4 linked regions of the Homo sapiens genome follow. The protein of the gene in region 1 interacts with the protein of each later gene in a pairwise test. Each region holds a gene or a part of one and is shown on either strand. Other genes may lie near its edges.

The links. The genes of interacting proteins can lie anywhere in the genome.
Region 2: the proteins of KHDRBS2 (region 1) and ZFC3H1 interact in a two-hybrid assay, tested with the Homo sapiens proteins (one large-scale study listed by BioGRID).
Region 3: the proteins of KHDRBS2 (region 1) and SULT1A3 interact in a two-hybrid assay, tested with the Homo sapiens proteins (one large-scale study listed by BioGRID).
Region 4: the proteins of KHDRBS2 (region 1) and PSMF1 interact in a two-hybrid assay, tested with the Homo sapiens proteins (one large-scale study listed by BioGRID and IntAct).

The regions. Positions count from the first base shown.
Region 1 is NC_000006.12:61,977,868-61,982,975, reverse strand, and holds part of KHDRBS2 (KH domain-containing, RNA-binding, signal transduction-associated protein 2), read left to right. Parts: intron 1-4,763; coding exon 4,764-4,910; intron 4,911-5,108. UniProt on the Homo sapiens protein: RNA-binding protein that plays a role in the regulation of alternative splicing and influences mRNA splice site selection and exon inclusion. Binds both poly(A) and poly(U) homopolymers. Phosphorylation by PTK6 inhibits its RNA-binding ability.
Region 2 is NC_000012.12:71,656,527-71,660,910, forward strand, and holds part of ZFC3H1 (zinc finger C3H1 domain-containing protein), read right to left. Parts: exon of another isoform or gene 3,845-4,384; intron 776-3,844; coding exon 359-775; intron 1-358. UniProt on the Homo sapiens protein: Subunit of the trimeric poly(A) tail exosome targeting (PAXT) complex, a complex that directs a subset of long and polyadenylated poly(A) RNAs for exosomal degradation. The RNA exosome is fundamental for the degradation of RNA in eukaryotic nuclei.
Region 3 is NC_000016.10:30,197,785-30,202,876, forward strand, and holds the start of SULT1A3 (sulfotransferase 1A3), read left to right. Parts: upstream 1-1,470; 5' UTR 1,471-1,543; intron 1,544-2,940; 5' UTR 2,941-2,944; coding exon 2,945-3,092; intron 3,093-3,196; coding exon 3,197-3,322; intron 3,323-3,411; coding exon 3,412-3,509; intron 3,510-4,905; coding exon 4,906-5,032; intron 5,033-5,092. UniProt on the Homo sapiens protein: Sulfotransferase that utilizes 3'-phospho-5'-adenylyl sulfate (PAPS) as sulfonate donor to catalyze the sulfate conjugation of phenolic monoamines (neurotransmitters such as dopamine, (R)-adrenaline/epinephrine, (R)-noradrenaline/norepinephrine and serotonin) and phenolic and catechol drugs.
Region 4 is NC_000020.11:1,128,540-1,132,923, forward strand, and holds part of PSMF1 (proteasome inhibitor PI31 subunit), read left to right. Parts: intron 1-4,384. UniProt on the Homo sapiens protein: Plays an important role in control of proteasome function. Inhibits the hydrolysis of protein and peptide substrates by the 20S proteasome. Also inhibits the activation of the proteasome by the proteasome regulatory proteins PA700 and PA28.

The DNA.
Region 1 (5,108 bases):
AAGATAAATATTTCATTTCTGTTTATAAAAGTATCATCAATTCAAATGGTATGAAGTATAAATAGCTTGAGAAAAGAGAAAAGAGTTCCTTAAATTCAGAAAACAGGACATTAAAGAACCAGTACTGTTTCAAACAAAGGCCATAACAAATTATAATCACCCTTTCTTAGTCTACTGAGGCCCATATAATTACTTCTTGTTCTGCTTAACTTTATGAGGGGTCTTATGAACTCCTCAGTGTCTCCACTATAGTTCTGAAAATCTTTAATCAGTCTTGTGGTATGTTCTTTTTTTTTTTTTTTTTTGAGACAGAGTTTGGCTCTGTCGCCCAGGCTGGAGTGCAGTGGCACCATCTCGGCTCACTGGAAGCTCCACCTTCCGGGTTCATGCCATTCTCTCGCCTCAGCCTCCGGAGTAGCTGGGATTACAGGCATGCGCCACCACGCCCGGCTAATTTTTTGTATTTTTAGTAGAGACGGGGTTTCACTGTGTTAGCCAGGATGGTCTCGATCTCCTGACCTCGTGATCCGCCCTCCTCAGCCTCCCAAAGCGCTGAGATTACAGGCGTGAGCCACCGCGCCCGGCCCCTTTTCTTAAAAGTATTTAAATAATGACATCAGAAGGTTGCATCCCAGAGTACCTGTTATAGTCATTTCCGTGGGTCTCAGAGGGAATCCCGTTTTGTAAAGACAAAGCATGCTATCCAGTAGCTGCTTCCAAGAGCTTTCAGGAAAGCATCAGAGTAAGATATATATATATATTTGCAGTGACTTTATTTCTTCATCACATTACCTAGGGTAAATTACATAATTCACAAGAATTTGACACTGTTGTCATCAGCCACATCTGAGTGGAGCATTTGCTTCTTAGTTTGGTATTAATAGTAACTACCTATGAATGACAAAAAGCTTAAAATGGCTATGTTAAATATCTGACGTGAATTCATTATAACACAGTTGACAAAGGATTTTGGTGGTTTCTGTGGAATACAATATTTAATTTATGGAATTTAAATCATAGAATTATGACTGACTACATTATACCAGGACGTATCAGGGAGATCAAGGTTATTGACCAATTCCTAGGAACTTCATAAAATTTCTGAAACAATAAAATCTACCCATACAAATATAAGGAAATTTAAGTAACTCTTCTTATTTGACAATGCTTCCCATACATTTTAACATATCAAATGAACCTAATTAGTTTAACATCTCTCTTTTTACAAAGTGAGAGAACATGAATCCTTAGAGATTTTCCAGGGGCTCTCTGAAAAATCTAAGTTGGTTTGGGGTCAAGCAGACTTCATTTAGAATTTGATTTTTGCAAATTGTCAAAAATGTCAAAAGATTGAACACTGCATTAAATAGGATCACAGGTCACTGTGAAACAATACTTTAGTTATCCACTTACTTAAGTGACAATACAAGATTTCAAAAGTAAGTATACGAGGTAACATACTTGCAGAGAGAAAAACAGCAACAACAAACAAATAAATTAAAAAAAAACTCAGTTTTTTTTTTTTAAGTGAGAGGACTTGGTTCTCATAAATAATTAAAGATGTGATAAATGTTAACATAAAGCGTAGGAAATTATTCTGATAAGACACAGAATGTTTTCTAGGCAGATTACTTAACAGGTAAAGAAAAAGTTTTATAATTTCTTATTAAGGGCAGACCAGTAATCCAAGAAAACTTTGTTGTTTTAACAGAGAAAAACCAAACTCTAGTTTTGAATCAGTAATCTTTTGATATACATTTTGTCATTTGAAAGACCACCAGGATGGCTAAATAGTAGAAAGGAGAGCTTTATTGGCATTAACTTGCAAATTGAGAAGAGAAACTCTCCAGTGTGGATCTAAGGTGCTCTTTATTTAAAGAAGGGAATGACAGGTTAGGTCTTATGCCTCACAGGGCCTGTATTATACATATTCAGCATGTTTTGGGGGAAAAGCTATATGTATTTATGAGAGGGCATGCCCAGTGGGTAAACATGTGTATAACATACATCCCATGTTCACTCTGACGTGAGGTTTTAGCATTGAAATGACATGGAATTCAGCTCTTTATGTCAAAAGGTGAACTGTAGTACACAAAGACAGTTTGTGTGCAGTCCCTATAAGCTGGCTGAAACTGGCTTAAGTTCTGCAATAGCTAATCAGAAAAGAATATTTGTAAAGTCAGTCCTCTGTCCTGCAGAGTTGTGGTGGTTTGGGCTGTAAATCAGCCTGAGAGCTCTGTTGTTAAGAAGTTTAGCTGAGGTGTAGTTTTCCTTATAGTGGTAGGAATTTGGAAATTTGCCATGCCATCTGGGTCCTGAACACTGGACTCCTAAGTAACTTTTGTTTCCTTAGCCTTAGGCCCATCTTGTTTGATAAATGGGCATCAATTTTGATCCCTCAGATCACAAGTCTATTAAAACAAATTTTTATAAAGAAACCCATTCAAATGTAGCCAGCTTTGACCAGGCAACATAAGACTTATTTTCTATAAAACTTCTACAATTTTTCATATCAATGCAATATAAGAGTTATTTCCCACTAACATTCTAAACTTTCAGGAGTTATTTTTCTGGTGGTGGTGGTGATGGTGTGATGCCTCACAGGAGGATCTAGAAGGGCAAAATACCAGCACCTGGAGTAGAACAAAGGAGGAATATGTGTTCCACATTAGATTATGAACAATTTATGATATATTCTTCATAAAAATACAAAAAGCAGGTAGCTACTATTCTTAACTTGACAACTTAGATCACTTTCCTGCACAATAATCTTCCTACAAAGAGCAGTATGGGTTTATAAAATTATTGGATACACTGCTTATGGAAGATGTGATTCCGAAGGGTCATCCCAAGTAGCAAATGATGATCTTCCAAGGAGAGTAGGGTCAATTAACTGCTGTTTTCTTTATTTTATTGAGCTCCATAATGAGCTAGTCATGTCACTCTAGGAAATGTCACTCAATGACCATATTATTTTGCTTAATAGAGTTGAAAATTATTTCAGTTCCCTAGGAAATTCTAGGTGTAAGGAGAGGGTAACACAAAAATAACTGAATGGGAATCAACATAGGAAGTAATAGAAAGGGACAGTGTCAAGAAATCTCTGATTTAATTATTTCAGCATGTATGCCCAAACCAGCTGGCCCCAGAATAAACAAGCAGCTTGCACCTTAGCAGGACCCAAAGAGAAAAGAAATCTTTACTACACCTCATGAGAGTATTTTCATTCAGTGTAGTGTTGCCTCTCCTCCCCAAACTGATAATTGGGCACTAAGAAAAGCTCTCAAGTTGAAAAGTCCTAGGTAGAGTTTGAAAGTATCCTTAGAGAAGTGAAGAATGGATTTCCAGGCTGCAAGGTGCTATTATCAGAAGTATTTGAGTAGGTGAAGGGTATATATACAGGAACGCAGGGATGCCTTCCCATCTCTTTCATGGATCCTTCATCTTTTAAAACAATGAGCATTTCTAATCAAGTAAACACTCACATTAACATGGGTTATACAGTTAACTCACATGACATCAACAGCAAATTTGTTCTTTTTTAAATCCAGGTAAGGTCTATTCATGTCATGTCTCTAATCTCTACATAAAACCAAGAATTACATGTTTAGTTTTATTTTTTGAAATTTAGTGAAGTAGCTGCTGGTTGTTTCTGTGAGGGACAAGAAAGATAAAACATAATTAATGTTATTTATGTTAACTTTTCTGCCACATTTTACATCTTGAAATTCTAAAAAATGCAAATCTGCTTGCAAAATGAACTGGGTCTGGATCTGAATTGGCTGAAGCTATTTAAGTCTTCTAACCACAGTTTCATAATCTGAAACATGTGAATATGTACAAAATGATTTTGATTAGAGATGATATGTATAAAATACTTAGTATACATTAACAAAATATATGGATCACATATTGATTTGCTGTACACCTGCACTGAATTAACCAGGTTTCAATAATGGCTTGGGCACAATACTAGGAAAAGTCTCTTCCAATAGAAATGTATTAGGTTGGTGCAAAAGCAATTATGGTTTTTGCCATTAAAAATAATGCCATTAAAAGCAATTAATGGCAATTGCTTTTCCACCAACCTAGTATTATTGGTTAACCAGAAGTTACGTAGCCCATGCAGAATCAATGCCAGCAAAATGTTAAACCACCCTTTAATATTCCCCTGTTGACAAAATAAATAAATAAAGGCAGCAAGCGATAGAAAAGCTGTGGGTATAAGGCTTGCTGATAATCTGGGCTGGTGAGAACATAGACTTGGAAATAAGCCTTGACTTGTATAGTTACCCTACTTTTTATCACAATCAAGTAACCTTCCTAACTTCTCAAAAAGTGGCTAGAAAGTTTTAGTTTTCTTAAAGAACACAGTGATAATCTTTCACTTACCATCTGCAAAATGCTGAACATCAAGCACAAAACAATTCTTCCCTTCCAGAATGTAGTCATGTAGACTACAGTGTTAATGGCAATTCTGTGACTTATTTTCAGGGGTTTAGCATTTTCATTTAGCTGATTAAAATCTGTTGTAGATGATAATTATGCCGGTTTTTAAAATCATTCAAACACTCAAAAATGATTTTAAAATCTTTAAATGGCTTGTAGCAGATTTTTATTTCTCAAAGGGTTTCTTTGAGAAAATTATGGAAGCAAATTATGGAAAATTTGCTTAAATTATACACCTTTGTCATATTCTCAGTAAATGTTAAATCAATGTAAAATGAGTGGATTTGTATTTCTAAAAATAACCTTTTTCACAGGAAGAAGAACTAAGGAAGAGTGGGGAAGCCAAATATGCCCACTTGAGTGATGAGCTTCATGTATTAATTGAAGTGTTTGCTCCACCTGGGGAAGCTTATTCACGTATGAGTCATGCATTGGAAGAGATTAAAAAATTCCTGGTTCCTGTAAGTGTCTTTCATTTTTTACAAAGATGTTTCTTATCAGCTTCTATTTTAAAATGCACCTTTGATCTTCACTGACTTTTTAAAAGGAAACTCATATTGCAAACCAATGATCTATCCACAGGTCGATACAAAGCTAAAAAATAAAATAGGATACCAAAACCACTTAACACAGGACCTGGCGTGTTGCCATATAGTGAT
Region 2 (4,384 bases), on another chromosome or scaffold:
ATAGGAGTAAAACCCTCCTTTACCCGATAAGGGATACCTACAAAAAAATTAACATCATATTTAATGGTAAATGTCAAAACCATTTTCTTTAAATTAGGAAACAAAGGTGTCCACTATTATCACTTATGTATAACATTCTATTATAGAGGCCAGAATGTCAGGCAAAAAATAAATAAATAAATAAAGACTAAAAGTAAACAAAATTAGTAATTATTCAATGATATGAATGTCTACATAGAAAGTACAAAAGAATTTACAGATAATTACAATCATTTCAATGAAGTACACTGCCAAAACAAGTAGTTACTACTTTAGAGGAAGAAGAGTCATTACTAACTGAAATATTTAATTCCATTACCTTGACTAGAATCAGTAGTGTCGGATTTCAGGGAAAGTGGTTTTGCTCCATCTTTAACTTTTTTCAAACGGTTCTTATCTCCTGGTAAAGTCAATTTTTGCCTGAGTGGTTTTAATTCAAATGCCTGAAAAGTTTTGACTTGTGTTTTCTCCTCAGGAGCTACTTCTTTACTTGAATCCTTTGTAATACTGACATTATCAGTGCTAGTTTGGTCCTCGAAGTTCAATGTTTTAGGATCTTCCTGCACATTCTCTTCTTTGCTACTCAATGCTAGTTTTTCATCCTTATTGATGCATTCTAGTTCCAACTGTATTTGTTTATACTTTAAAAGCAAATCTTCAAAAGTTTCTTCCACACAGTTTTCATTTTTTGATGAATAATTTTGTTTTCTTGATGGAGACCTTCCAAAACTTTTGGCTGAACAGCATATTAAGGAAACCAGTTTCCAAAAATTTTCCACAGTTAAATTTAACAAAAAAACTTAGATTATAGATGAATTTTCTCCCTTTTTAATTTTTCAAGAAAAATGAATCGATATTTTTAAATTACTAAATTCCATTTAATGTATGTGCAGCTAATGCCCACTTTCATTACGTGCCCATATTTGAATTTAGTAAGTACCATATAAACAGTCCACTTACAAAATCACTAGTGTCATAATTACCAGTAGTATCCACAGACAGTCCACCTAGTTAGGTTATAGCATCATTCCTTCTGTGCCAGGAAAGTCCATAATTAGCTGTATGTTAGAGATTATTTTCTGAAGGAAGAGGGGAGAAACTGAATGCTTTGTCACAGATGCGGATAGTTTACACTTCAGGGGGCCAGGCGCGGTGGCTCACGCCTGTAATCCCAGCACTTTGGGAGGCCGAGGCAGGAGGATCACTTGAGGTCAGGAGTTTGAGACCAGCCTGGCCAACACAGTGAAACCCCATCTCTACTAAAAATTAAAAAATTAGCCAGGCGTGGTGGTGCAGGCCTGTAGTCCCAGGTACTTGAGACGCTGAGGCAAGAGAATTGCTTGAACTCAGGAGGCGGAGGTTGCAGGGAGCCAAGATCACACCACTGCACTCCAGCCTGGGCAACAGAGGGAGACCTCATCTCAAAAAAAAGAAAAAAAAAAACACTTTAAAATAGTACTCAAAATATATCTATTTTTCTCCTACAGACAAGGGAAAATGTTATGAAAATAATCTGAAGCAACTGTTCTTACTTTCTTCTCTAACACAGTGATACACAAAAGGTAACTTTTTCCTTAGAAACAGCTACAAAATTTCAAACTACAATTTTTATTCTAAACAATTCATACACGAGAATTGTTATACCTCATTTTTCCAGGCCAGATATTAGCAAGAGAAAAGACAGTACCTCCTGTGGTTTTAATACATCATTTATAGATTTTTTTTTTTTTTTTTTTTTTTTGAGACAGAGTCTCGCACTGTCAGCCAGTCTGGAGTGCAGTGGTGCGATCTCGGCTCACTGCAACCTCCGTCTCCCAGGCTCAAGCAATTCTCCTGTCTCAGCCTCCTGAGTAGCTTGGATTACAGGTGCGTGCCACCATGCCCAGCTAATTTTTGTATTTTTAGTAGAGATGGAGTTTCACCATGTTGACAAGGCTGGTCTTGAAATCCTGACCTCAGGTAATCCGCCCACCTTGACCTCCCAAAGTGCCGGGATTACAGGTGTGAGCCACTGCACCCAGCCTATAGATTATTTTCAGTTGGCTAGGATGTAAAATACAGTACCCCAAATACGGTTCTTCTGTTTAAACACCTCACAGGGCAAGCAGCAGAAAAGGTTTTTAAACTCTCCTGATGACCAGTTCTAAAAATGAGAATTACCATCATCTAAGAAACAAAAATAAGCAATAAGTACATCTGAAAATCTTAACAGTTCTACAGCAAAACTGTTCTAGTAAATCTCTGGTTCTCTGATCTCTTCAAAGCCAAGTATCCTGAAAGAAAACTAGTTTCTCTGTACCCTTCTTACCAAATGGAATCTGGTTTCTGTCCCATTAATCTAGAGAGACTGCTGTGGCTAAGTTTCCCTATCAATGTTTTCAAACTTTATTTTTTTTTACCTGACCCCTCTGAGAATCTGACACCATAAACCACTTCTCTCTTGGCTTCCATAACTCCGCATCTCCCTTTGTTTCCCTATTTGTGTTTTGTCTTTTAAGTCTCCATTGAGTCTTTTCTCTCTAACTTGTGAAATAATGGTGCTCTTCAGGGAGCACTACTTAGCCTCTTTCTCATTTTGAGCATTCTAATGCACCTCCACAGTTTTACCTACCACAGGAGAGTTTACCCTGGTGATAAGATATTTCTCTTATCTCCTACAAGCCATCCTTCATACTGCTGCTGCCAGAGTAATCTTTCTAGAATACAAATATAAGATCATTCCCCTTGTTTAAATTTCCCTAATAAAAAAGTCCAAAATCCTGAGAATAAATATAATCTGACCTGTGCTTTCCTTTCCAAACTTACTTTTTCCTTGTTCATCACAATTTTTGCATAGCTTTGTGTCTAAGTTTGTCTGTTCTTCAACTTAACCCCAATTCAAGTGTCACCTCTGTGAAGCCTGAGTTTCTCACTCTCCCTTCCCCTCTTACACACTCTTTGTATGTAAGTTCTGTAATTATCTGCATTTACATCTTACTTTTCACTGGAGCCATTTAAAGGCACAACTGCAATTAAAAAAAAAAGAAAAGAAAGGGAAATGATTAAATACACTAACAAAAATGCTAAATAGAAAAATAAGGAAAAGCAATTGAGTTACAACTATAACTGACTAATCTCCTTCAAGGCTAAAGAAAATCTATCCCTATCTATACAGAAGCCTAAGATCAAACCAACACTTACCAGATTTAATTTTAAGCTTGTCAAGATACAATTTCTAACTGAACCTTGGTTTAAACAAAAAGAAGTGCTATTCAACCTTTTCAGCTGCAGCTGAAAATGGAATGACTTTTTACTGATGAGAGACACTAGCCTAATTATGTTAGCTCTCCTCAGATTTGAAAGTTTAAAAGAGTAGTCATTCAAGGGAGACATGCTAAGATGTACTGACAAAGTGTCTATCATTAAGAAAAATTAAGGGTGAAAATAAGAACTGCAATTGAATCTAGTTTATTCTATTTCTTTAAAGTTGCAACTAGCATATCTTAGTTATTACAGTGAAAGGAGTTATGGCAAAAATAGAAATAAACCCTATACTCAGGCTACTTTACTTCTAAATTACAGAAATATGCCACAGAGTAACCTGCATTCTTTCTTTATACAGTATTTGTAAAATAAAAAAGGTATTATTATAATCACATAGTGGAAATATGAATTAAACTGAGTACAACCTTGATATTAAATAAATTTGAATGAAGTGTTGTAACAAATATTTTGTTTGCTCACATTATATAAAAGTAGCTGGGAACTACGTTTTCCTTCTCAAATTCTTAAAAAGAACACCACCTCTAGGATGGATTACTGATACTTCATAGGGAAAACAATGAGCAGGACATCAAAACAAGCATCCTTTTAAGTGCAGCATCTGTGAAAAGAAAAACAACAAGATATCTTATTTATGACAAGTTACTACGGAAATCAAAGTCACACAAGCAGACTGGATATTTTCTGGTACTTTTTTTTTTTTGCAACATCATATGCCAGTTTACTAATAAAAACATGCAAGCTTACCAATTAATAAAGGTCTATGGTAGAGGCCCAAAATAGTATTGAATAAACACGCAGAAAGAGGACAAAAGCAGAAAGCCCACTCACCTCCCCCTTTTCTAATACAGAATAAAAATTTTAAGAAAAACCTTTGAGCTCCCATAGTACTTTTTTATATACATACTTCAGTTTCAACTTTTTATACTAAACTGCAACTACTTATTTTCATTTGTTTCCCTAATACAAACTACAGGTTTCATCTTTGTACCTTTAAAAAACACATATAAACTGGTGGCTCTCGCCTATAAATCCCAGCACTTTGGGAGTCTAAGGAAGGAGGATCTCTTGAAGCTACAAGTTC
Region 3 (5,092 bases), on another chromosome or scaffold:
TGCAAATAGGACAAAGACCAAGGAGGATGGGGGGATGCCCTCCTTCCACGGGGCCCTGTGGCTTCCAAGTCTTAATCTCCTCTAGTCTCTTGTCTACGGAGCCTCCTTCAAACCCAGGGAAAGAAAATCACCTGCCAGGGTTGTTTTTCTTCTAGGATCTTCTATTGATGCTCTGTGAGGTCCCCCAGGAGCCATGAAGCTAGGGCTGGCTCCTAGGGCAATGGGACTACAGTGTCCTTGTCCTTTCTTATTCTTTCTGTTCTTTCTTTCTTTCTTTTTTTTTTTTTTTTTTTTTTTTTGAGACAGAGTCTCACTCTGTTGCCCAGGCTGGAGTGCAGTGGTGTGATCTTGGCTCACTGAAACCTCCGCCTCCTGGGTTCAAGTGATTCTCTTGCCTCAGCCTCCTGAGTAGCTAGGATTACAGATGCCCGCCATCATGCCCAGCTAATTTTTGTATTTTTAGTAGAGACAGGGTTTCACCATGTTGGCCAGCTTGGTCTCGAACTCCTGACCTCAGGTGATCCTGCTGCATCGACCTCCCAAAGTACTGGGATTACAGGCGTGAGCCACCACGCTCAGCCTCTTTCTTGTTCTATATGTCCATGCTCTGCTCCACTTCTGCCCCTTCACTCTGCCCCCACACATCACTCCAGACTGGCCTTGTGGTCAGAGCCTGGAATGCCTGGGCTGCTGGGGGCCTGTGGACTGCACTGGGCCAGAACCCCTGCCGCCTTCAAGACTGGCCTGTAGCCAGCAGGTAGGTGACTTTTCCCAGGCCGGCCTATCCCACCTTTCCCCTCCACTCACTCACCTCCCTTGCCTGGGTCAATTAGAGAAAGCTTGTCGGCCAGGCATGGTGGCTCATGCCTGTAATCTCAGCACTTTGGGAGGCCGAGGCGGGCGGATCATCTGAGCTCAGGAGTTTGAGACCAGCCTGGCCAACATGGCAAAACCCCGTCTCTACTAAAAATACAAAAATTAACCGGATGTGGTGGTGTGCACCTGTAATCCCAGCTACTCGGGAGGCTGAGGCAGAAGAATCGCTTGAACCCAGGAGGGGGAGGTTACAGTGAGCGGAGATCGTGCTACTGCATTGCAGCCTGGGCGAGAGAGCGAGTCTCCATCTCATATAAAAAAAAGAAAAAGAAAGAAAGAAAGCTTGTCTGTTGGCCTGCCCTGCAGGGTGGAGTTCAGAGGGAAGGTCAGGAGCCTAGTGACAGCTCAAAAAAAAAAAAACCCAAATACCAATGTTGGCCCCTTTTGCCTTTCATTCATGTGTTTTCTATACACTAAACTCACATATTGGGTTTGCAGATCACTCCAAGCTTGGCTGGAGCTGTGGTGGTAAGGAGGGTAATAGAGAAGCTTCCCCACCCTCAACCCCACCCCTTCCTTCCTGGAGTTCCCAGCCCTGACTTTAGATCCCTCCCACACTGGACCTTCAAAACCCTCAGGGCAGAGAGCAGCCCTACACTCCCTACACCACACCCATACTCAGCCCCTGCAGGCAAGGAGAGAACAGGTCAGGTTCCCGAGAGCTCAGGTGAGTGACACGTTGGAATGGCCCAGGGCACCTTCACCCTGCTCAGCTTGTGGCTCCAACATTCTAGAAGCCGAGGCCTCTGCCATCCCTGCCCTTTCCCATGGATATTCCATTTCAATTAGACAACCCAGCCTGGCCGGAATCCCCCTGCGTTCCTTCTTTTCCTTTGTGTATTTTTGAGACAGGGTGTTGCTCCGTCACCCAGGCTGGAGTGTAGTGGGATCCTGGCCCACTGCAGCCTCAAATTCCTAGGCTGAGGCAATCCTGCCGCCTCAGCCTCCTGAGTAGCTGGGGTTACAAGAGCAAGCCACCACACCCAGCTAATTTTGAAAAATATTTTTTGTAGAGGAGAGGTCTTGCTTTGTTGTCCAGGTTGGTCTCAAACTCCAGGGCTCAAGGGATCCTTTCCCGTTGGCCTCCCAAGGCTCTGGGATTACAGGCGGGAGTCACCCTGCCTGGGCCCCTCCTTTTGATGAGTCATCAGTTTTCATTCCCGCACGAGGCTCTAGCCCCTGGTACCAGCTTAGTTGCTCAATGGGCTGTGTTTGTTCTGGAGCCCAGATGGACTGTGGCCAGGCAAGTGGATCACAGACCTGGCCGGCCTGGGAGGTTTCCACATGTGAGGGGCATGAGGGGGGCTCAAGGAGGGGAGCATCGGGGAGAGGAGCGCACTGGGTGGAGGCTGGGGGTCCCAGCAGGAAATGGTGAGACAAAGGGCGCTGGCTGGCAGGGAGACAGCACAGGCAGGCCCTAGAGCTTCCTCAGCACAGCTGGACTCTCCTGGAGACCTTCACACACCCTGATATCTGGGCCCCGCGCTACGAGGGTGCTTTCACTGGTCTGCACTATGCCCCAGGCCCTGGGATTTTGAACAGCTCTGCAGGTGACTGAAAGGTGCGGCCAGGCTGGGGAACGACCTGGTTTCAGCCCCAGCCCCGCCACTGACTGACTTTGTGAGTGCGGGCAAGTCACTCAGCCTCCCTAGGCCTCAGTGACTTCCCTGAAAGCAAAAACTCTGCAAAGGGGCAGCTGGGTGCTGGCTCACACCTGTAATCCCAGCACTTTGGGAGGCTGAGGTAGACAAATCACTTGAGGCCAGGAGTTCTAGACCAGCCTGGCCAACATGGTGAAACCCCATCTCTACTAAAGAAAAAAAAAAATTAGCTGAGCATGGTTGTACATGCTTGTAATCCCAGCTACTTGGGATGCCGAGGCGGGAGGATTGCTTGAACCCAAGAGGTGGAGTTTGCAGTGAGCTGAGATTGTGCCACACTGCACTCCAGCTTGGGTGAGAGTGAGACTCCATCTCAAAAAAAAAAAAAAAAAAGAGAGAATCCCACTTTCTTGCTGTTGTGATGGTGGTAAGGGAACGGGCCTGGCTCTGGCCCCTGATGCAGGAACATGGAGCTGATCCAGGACACCTCCCGCCCGCCACTGGAGTACGTGAAGGGGGTCCCGCTCATCAAGTACTTTGCAGAGGCACTGGGGCCCCTGCAGAGCTTCCAAGCCCGACCTGATGACCTGCTCATCAACACCTACCCCAAGTCTGGTAAGTGAGGAGGGCCACCCACCCTCTCCCAGGCGGCAGTCCCCACCTTGGTCAGCAAGGTCGTGCCCTCAGCCTGCTCACCTCCTATCTCCCTCCCTCTCCAGGCACCACCTGGGTGAGCCAGATACTGGACATGATCTACCAGGGCGGCGACCTAGAGAAGTGTAACCGGGCTCCCATCTACGTACGGGTGCCCTTCCTTGAGGTCAATGATCCAGGGGAACCCTCAGGTGCATGGCTGGGTCCTGGGGGTAAGGGAAGTGGAGGAAGACAGGGCTGGGGCTTCAGCTCACCAGACCTTCCCTGACCCACTACTCAGGGCTGGAGACTCTGAAAGACACACCGCCCCCACGGCTCATCAAGTCACACCTGCCCCTGGCTCTGCTCCCTCAGACTCTGTTGGATCAGAAGGTCAAGGTGAGGCCGGGCTCAATGGTTCACACCTGTCATCCCAGTTTGAGACTGAGGAGGGAGGATCCCTTGAAGGCGAGAGATGGAGACCAGCCTGGGCAACATTGCTGTAGAGATGACATCCCATCTCTACAAAAATAAAATTAACAACCTGGTATGGTGGCATAGACTGTTCCCAGTTACTTAGGAGGCTCAGCGGGGAGGACTGTTTATGCAAATAGGAAGCTGCAATGAGCCCTGATGATCCTGCTGCTGCACTCCAGCCTGGGCAACACAGCAAAACCATCTCTACGAAAAAAAAAGTTCCCACTGACTGGCAAGGAAAGCCAGGAAGGGGGGCTCAGGTGCCCTCTCAGCCATGTACCTGTTCTTCTGGAAGGGCCTCCTCGCTTCTGCCAGGCTCATCACATCTTTTTTTTTTTTTGAGACAGAGTCTTGCTCTGTCACCCTGGCTGGAGTGCAGTGGCATGATCTCAGCTCACTGCAACCTCCGCCTCCCCAGTTCAAGTGATTCTCCTGCCTCAGCCTCCTGAGTAGCTGGGATTACAGGCGTGTGCTACCACACCCGGCTAATTTTTGTATTCTTTTTAGTAGAGACGGGGTTTCACCATGTTGGTCAAGTGGATCTCAAACTCTTGACCTTGTGATCCTCCTGCCTCGACCTCACAAAGTGCTGGAATTACAGGCGTGAGCCACCGCGCCTGGCCCTTTTTTTTTTTGAGACAGTTTCACTCTTGTTGCCGAGGCTAGAGCGCAATCGTGTGATCTCGGTTCACTGCAACCACCGCCTCCTGGGTTCAAGCAATTCTCCTGCTTCAGCCTCCCAAGGAGCTGGGATTACAGGTACCTGCCACCACGCCCGGCTAATTTTGTATTTTTAGTAGAGATGGGGTTTCACCATGTTGGTCAGGCTGGTCTTGAACTCCTGACCTCAGGTGATCTGGCCACCTTGGCCTCCCAAAGTGCCGGGATTAGAGGCATGAGCCACCACGCCCAGCCTTCATCACATCTTGAGAGAGGACACTGTCTGCCTCTTGCTCTGATGAGGGTCTGATGCAAGGATAGTGAGTCTCTACAGTGCACACTTAAGAAAGGCAGCATGTGGGTGCTCACAGGTCAGCGGAGGAGGGGGAGCTGGTGGGGACCAGGCATGCCTTGCTCCAGATCAGGATATGATGGCATTGGTGCAGATTATATTAGTATAGAATATGGTCTCAGGAACCAGGCAGGACTTTGGCTTCCGAGCAGGGTTCAGATCCCAGCTTGGCCCTACCTGTGCAGTGAGATCTCAAGCAAGTCAGCCTCTAAGCCTCAGGTTCCTCCTTTGCCAGTTCAACAGATGAGCTGGCCTGGGGTGGGCTGTGTGGTGATGGTGCTGGGGCTGGGTCCTCTGCCCCTGCAGGTGGTCTATGTTGCCCGAAACCCAAAGGACGTGGCGGTCTCCTACTACCATTTCCACCGTATGGAAAAGGCGCACCCTGAGCCTGGGACCTGGGACAGCTTCCTGGAAAAGTTCATGGCTGGAGAAGGTGGGCTTGACTGGAGGAAGGAGGGTGTGAAGCCGAGGGGTGGTGGCTATAACGTACAGC
Region 4 (4,384 bases), on another chromosome or scaffold:
TTTTAACTATGTTCCACAAAAGATGTAGGCAGAGTAGTGTGTTCCAAAGGTACTTAGATTAGTGCTTGTTTTTAAAATCAGTATAATGAAATTATCTGTTTTATATATAGTTAAGCTGATTTATGTCTGCTTTATTCCATTATAGGGATTTTCCCCCCATCTTCATTGACCTCCTCAGGGTTTTATTTTTTATTTTATTTTATTTTTTTGAGGTGGAGTCTAGTTCTGTCACCCAGGCTGGAGTACAGTGTGACTGTTCAAGCAATTCTTCTGCCTCAGCTTCCCGAGTAACTGGGATTACAGGTGTGCACCACCACACCCAGCTAATTTTTGCGTTTTTTTGTTTTGTTTTTTGAGACGGAGTCTTGCTCTGTCACCCAGGCTGGAGTGCAGTGGCGCGATCTCGGCTCACTGCAAGCTCTACCTCCCGGGTTCACGCCATTCTCCTGCCTCAGCCTCCCGAGTAGCTGGGACTACAGGTGCCCACCACCACGCCTGGCAATTTTTTTTTTTTGTATTTTAGTAGAGATGGGGTTTCACCATGTTAGCCAGGATGGTCTCGATCTCCTGACCTCGTGATCCACCTGCCTTGGCCTCCCAAAGTGCTGGGATTACAGGCGTGAGCCACTGCACCCAGCCAATTTTTGCGTTTTTAATAGAGACAGGGTTTTGCTGTTGGCCAGGCTGGTGTCGAACTCCTGACCTCAAGTGATGGGATTACAGGTGTGAGCTACCGCACCTAGCCACCCTCAGAGTTTTAGAGTGAGCTTGGCATCACTATAAATGCACAGTTATCAAACCTTAACCGAACCTCAGAACTGCCCAGAAACCCTGTTGCATTTAATAGTATCTAATCAGCAATACCCTCTTTGAACCTATTCCAGTCCTCACAGACTTTCAAACCACTGGCCTCCACATTCTGGCCACTCCTCATTTCTCCTCCCCTCTTCCATGCAGCTTCTGTGTGAGGAGGTCTTTTACATATTCCCCTCCTGCATGCCACCCTCCAGTGTATTTCCCACGCAGCAGTTGGACCAGTCTTTCAGACATAGATCAGATCATAGTTAACAACTCTGGCTTAAAACCCTTCAGTGATGCTGCTTCACACCCATTACGATGGGTAGTATCAGAATAACCAGAAAATAAACAAGCGTTGTCAAGGATGTGGAGAAATTGGAACTCTTGTGCACTCTTGGGAATGTAAAATGGTGCAGCCACTATGGAAAACAATATGACAGTTCTTCAAAAAATTACCGTATAATCCTGCATGTCCACTTCCGGGCATATACCCAAAAGAATTGAAAGTAGGTCTTGAAAAGATATTTGTACACCCATGTTCGTAGAAGCATTATTCACAGTAGCCAAAAGGTGAAAGCAGCTTGGCTGTCCATTGATAAGATGAATGGATGAACAAAATTTGGTATGTAAATACAGTAGAATATTATTCGGCTTTAAAAAGGAAGGAAATTCTGGCCCGTGCTACAACATGGATGAACCTTGAAGACATTATACTAAATTAAATAAGCCATTCACAAAAGGACAAATTCTGTGTGATTCTATTAAAAGTACCTAGATTAGTCAAATTTGTAGAGACAGACAGTGGATGGTGGTTGCCAGATACTGGGGCAAGAGGGGAATAGGAAGGGGAGTTAGTGATTAATGGGTACAGAGTTTGTTTTGCAAAATGAAAAGAGATCTGGAGATGGATGGTAGGTGATTGCACAACAGTGTTAATGTACTTAACAGTACTGAACACTTAAAAATGGTTAAGATGGTAAATTTTATGCATATTTTACCACAGTTAAAAGTCTTTAGGGAATACTCATTGCTGTTAGGATAAAGAGCACAATCCTTGATGAGGCCTTAAAGCATTCACCCCTTCAATCTCACCTTGTACTGCCTTCCCCGCATCCCTGTGCTTCAGCCACAGTGTCATTCTTCTGCCCTCTTCAGACCTCTTCCCTCTGTCTAAAGTGCTCTCCCTGACCTCACGTAGCCAACTCCTGTTTATCTTTTGGTTACCGATTTAAACGTCAGTTCCTTAGAGAAGCTTCCTCTGGCCCCCAGGCTTACAGCTTCAAAACATTTTAGTAAAATGTTTTTTTTGGAGTCAGGTTTCCCTCTGTTGCCCAGGCAGGCTGGAGTACAGTGGCACAATCAGCTCACTTATAAACAGGCCAAGCAGCCTCAACCTACTGGGCTCAAGTGACCCTCCCACCTGAGCCTCCCAAATAATTGGGTCTACAGGCATGTGCCACCATGCCCAGCCAGTTTTTTATTTTTTGTAGAGATGAGGTCTTTGCTGTGTTGCCCTGGATCAAAACATCATTTTTTAAGCATTTAATCCATCAGATATTTTACATTTACCTTCTTAGGGTTGGTCTTCCCTCCTTGCCTGTGATCTCCTTGAGGGCAGGGTTTGGGTGTCTTCTGCATGCAATAGACAAAGGGAGGGAAGGGGAAGTGAGCCAGGCCTGGCCGGCAGAATGCTGCGCCTCTGAGGAAAGGGGGAAGTGAGCCAGGCCTGGCCGGCAGAATGCCGCGCCTCTGGGTGTTGCACACTCCCTGACACCCTGGCCCCTCTTAGTGGGTAAGGGAGGGACATTTGGAGTGTGGTCTCTTGACTTCTTCACTCTGGACTTCCACTGGGAGAGAAATTGACAAAACCTGTGGAAGAACCTAGGAATTATACTGGCCATTCATGCTCATTAGAGCATTCCGTCTGTTCAGCAATACTGAAAGAGAATTGTGATCCTGTCTCTATTTGTTTTTTAAGTACATTTGTTTGAGGGGTTTGTGTGTGAGGGAGGGGATATGTGTTGTGTTTTGTTTTGTTTTTTGATTACTGTGAAATGAGGGACACAATAGTACTACCTCAGGGTTTTTCTGAGAATGGAATGAGATGTCAGCACATAGAGTGCTTAGCGCTTAGTCCAGCTCTTAGTAAAATACACAAAGGGGAAAAAAATGTGATCACCAGGAGTCATCTCCGTGGAAATGGGCGGTGAAAGCTGAGGTATGGCTCTGCCTCCTGATCAGAGGCCCTGTCTCCCTCCTATGCCTTTCAGCCATAGCTTCCTCCATGTAGCCCTCTTTATTAGGTCATTGTGGCATGTCTTGCCTCTTCCAGCAATTTGTGCTCCTCAGTGAGCAAACTGTGATTTGCTAAGAAATATAAACCTATTGTGTTCCATTCTGCTGTACCCTTTCTGTGTCGGATGAGATGGTAGGCTGTCTTTTGCCACAACCAAAATGGCAGTTGTTCTTTCAAGGCTTAGAAATTGTGTGAGAACTTCTCCTTCAGGACCTGGTGGTTTTTTAATCAGGCCTGAATTTTACACATGCCTAGGGAGATCAGAGGCCTCCCTCTGATCTGATTAAAAGGAAAGAAGACTTGAATTTACCCTCCCACCCAGCTTGGGCAGGCAAGCAGCTCATTTTTTACCCATGGATGTCCAATGGCCCCAACATCATTTGTTATTCCTTCATTGAATTACTTTTGAAACTTTGTCAAAAATCAGTTGTCTGTACATCTGTGGATCTATCTCTGGATCCCTTGTTCTTTTCCATTGATCTCTATGTCTCTTCCTCTGTCAATATTACTCTATCAGTATTGATTATTGTAGGCCTTAATATTGAGTAGAATAATTCCTCCCACTTTTTCTTCGTCAAGGTAGTTGTAGCTATTCTAGGTTCTGTGCCTTTTCTTTTTTTTCTTTTTTCTTTCTTTTTTTTTTTCTTTGTTTGAGACAGAGTCTCACTGTGTCTCAAAAAGGCTCAGGCTGGAGTGCAGTGGTGTGATCTTGGCTCACTTCAACCTCTGCCTCCGGGGTTCAAGTGATTCTCCTGCCTCAACCTTCTGAGTAGCTGGGACTACAGATGCGTGCCACCATGCCTGGCTAATTTTTTGTATTTTTAGTAGAGACGGGGTTTTACCATGTTAGCCAGGATGGTCTCGATCTCCTGACCTCGTGACCCACCCATCTTAGCCTCCCAAAGTGCTGGGATTACAGACGTGAGCCACCGCACCTGGCCTCTGTGCCTTTTCATATAAACTTTAGAGTAAGCTTGTGTATATCTATGAAAAACCTTGCTAGGATTTTGATAGGAGTTGCATTAAACCTATAGATTAGTTTGGGGAGAATTGACATTCTTGCTATGAACATGATATATCTTATCTCTCCATTTATTAATATTTAGGTTTTATTTGATTTCCATCAGTATCATTTGTAATTTTCAACATATAGATCCTGTACATAGCTTGTTATTTGTTTAAAGCAGAAAGGGAGATGATTATGAATGGCATATTCTGTCCTTTGTTTTGGTTTTCAAATGTTCATTGTTAGTGTGTAGAAATGTAGTTGATTTTCCTGTGTTGAACTCT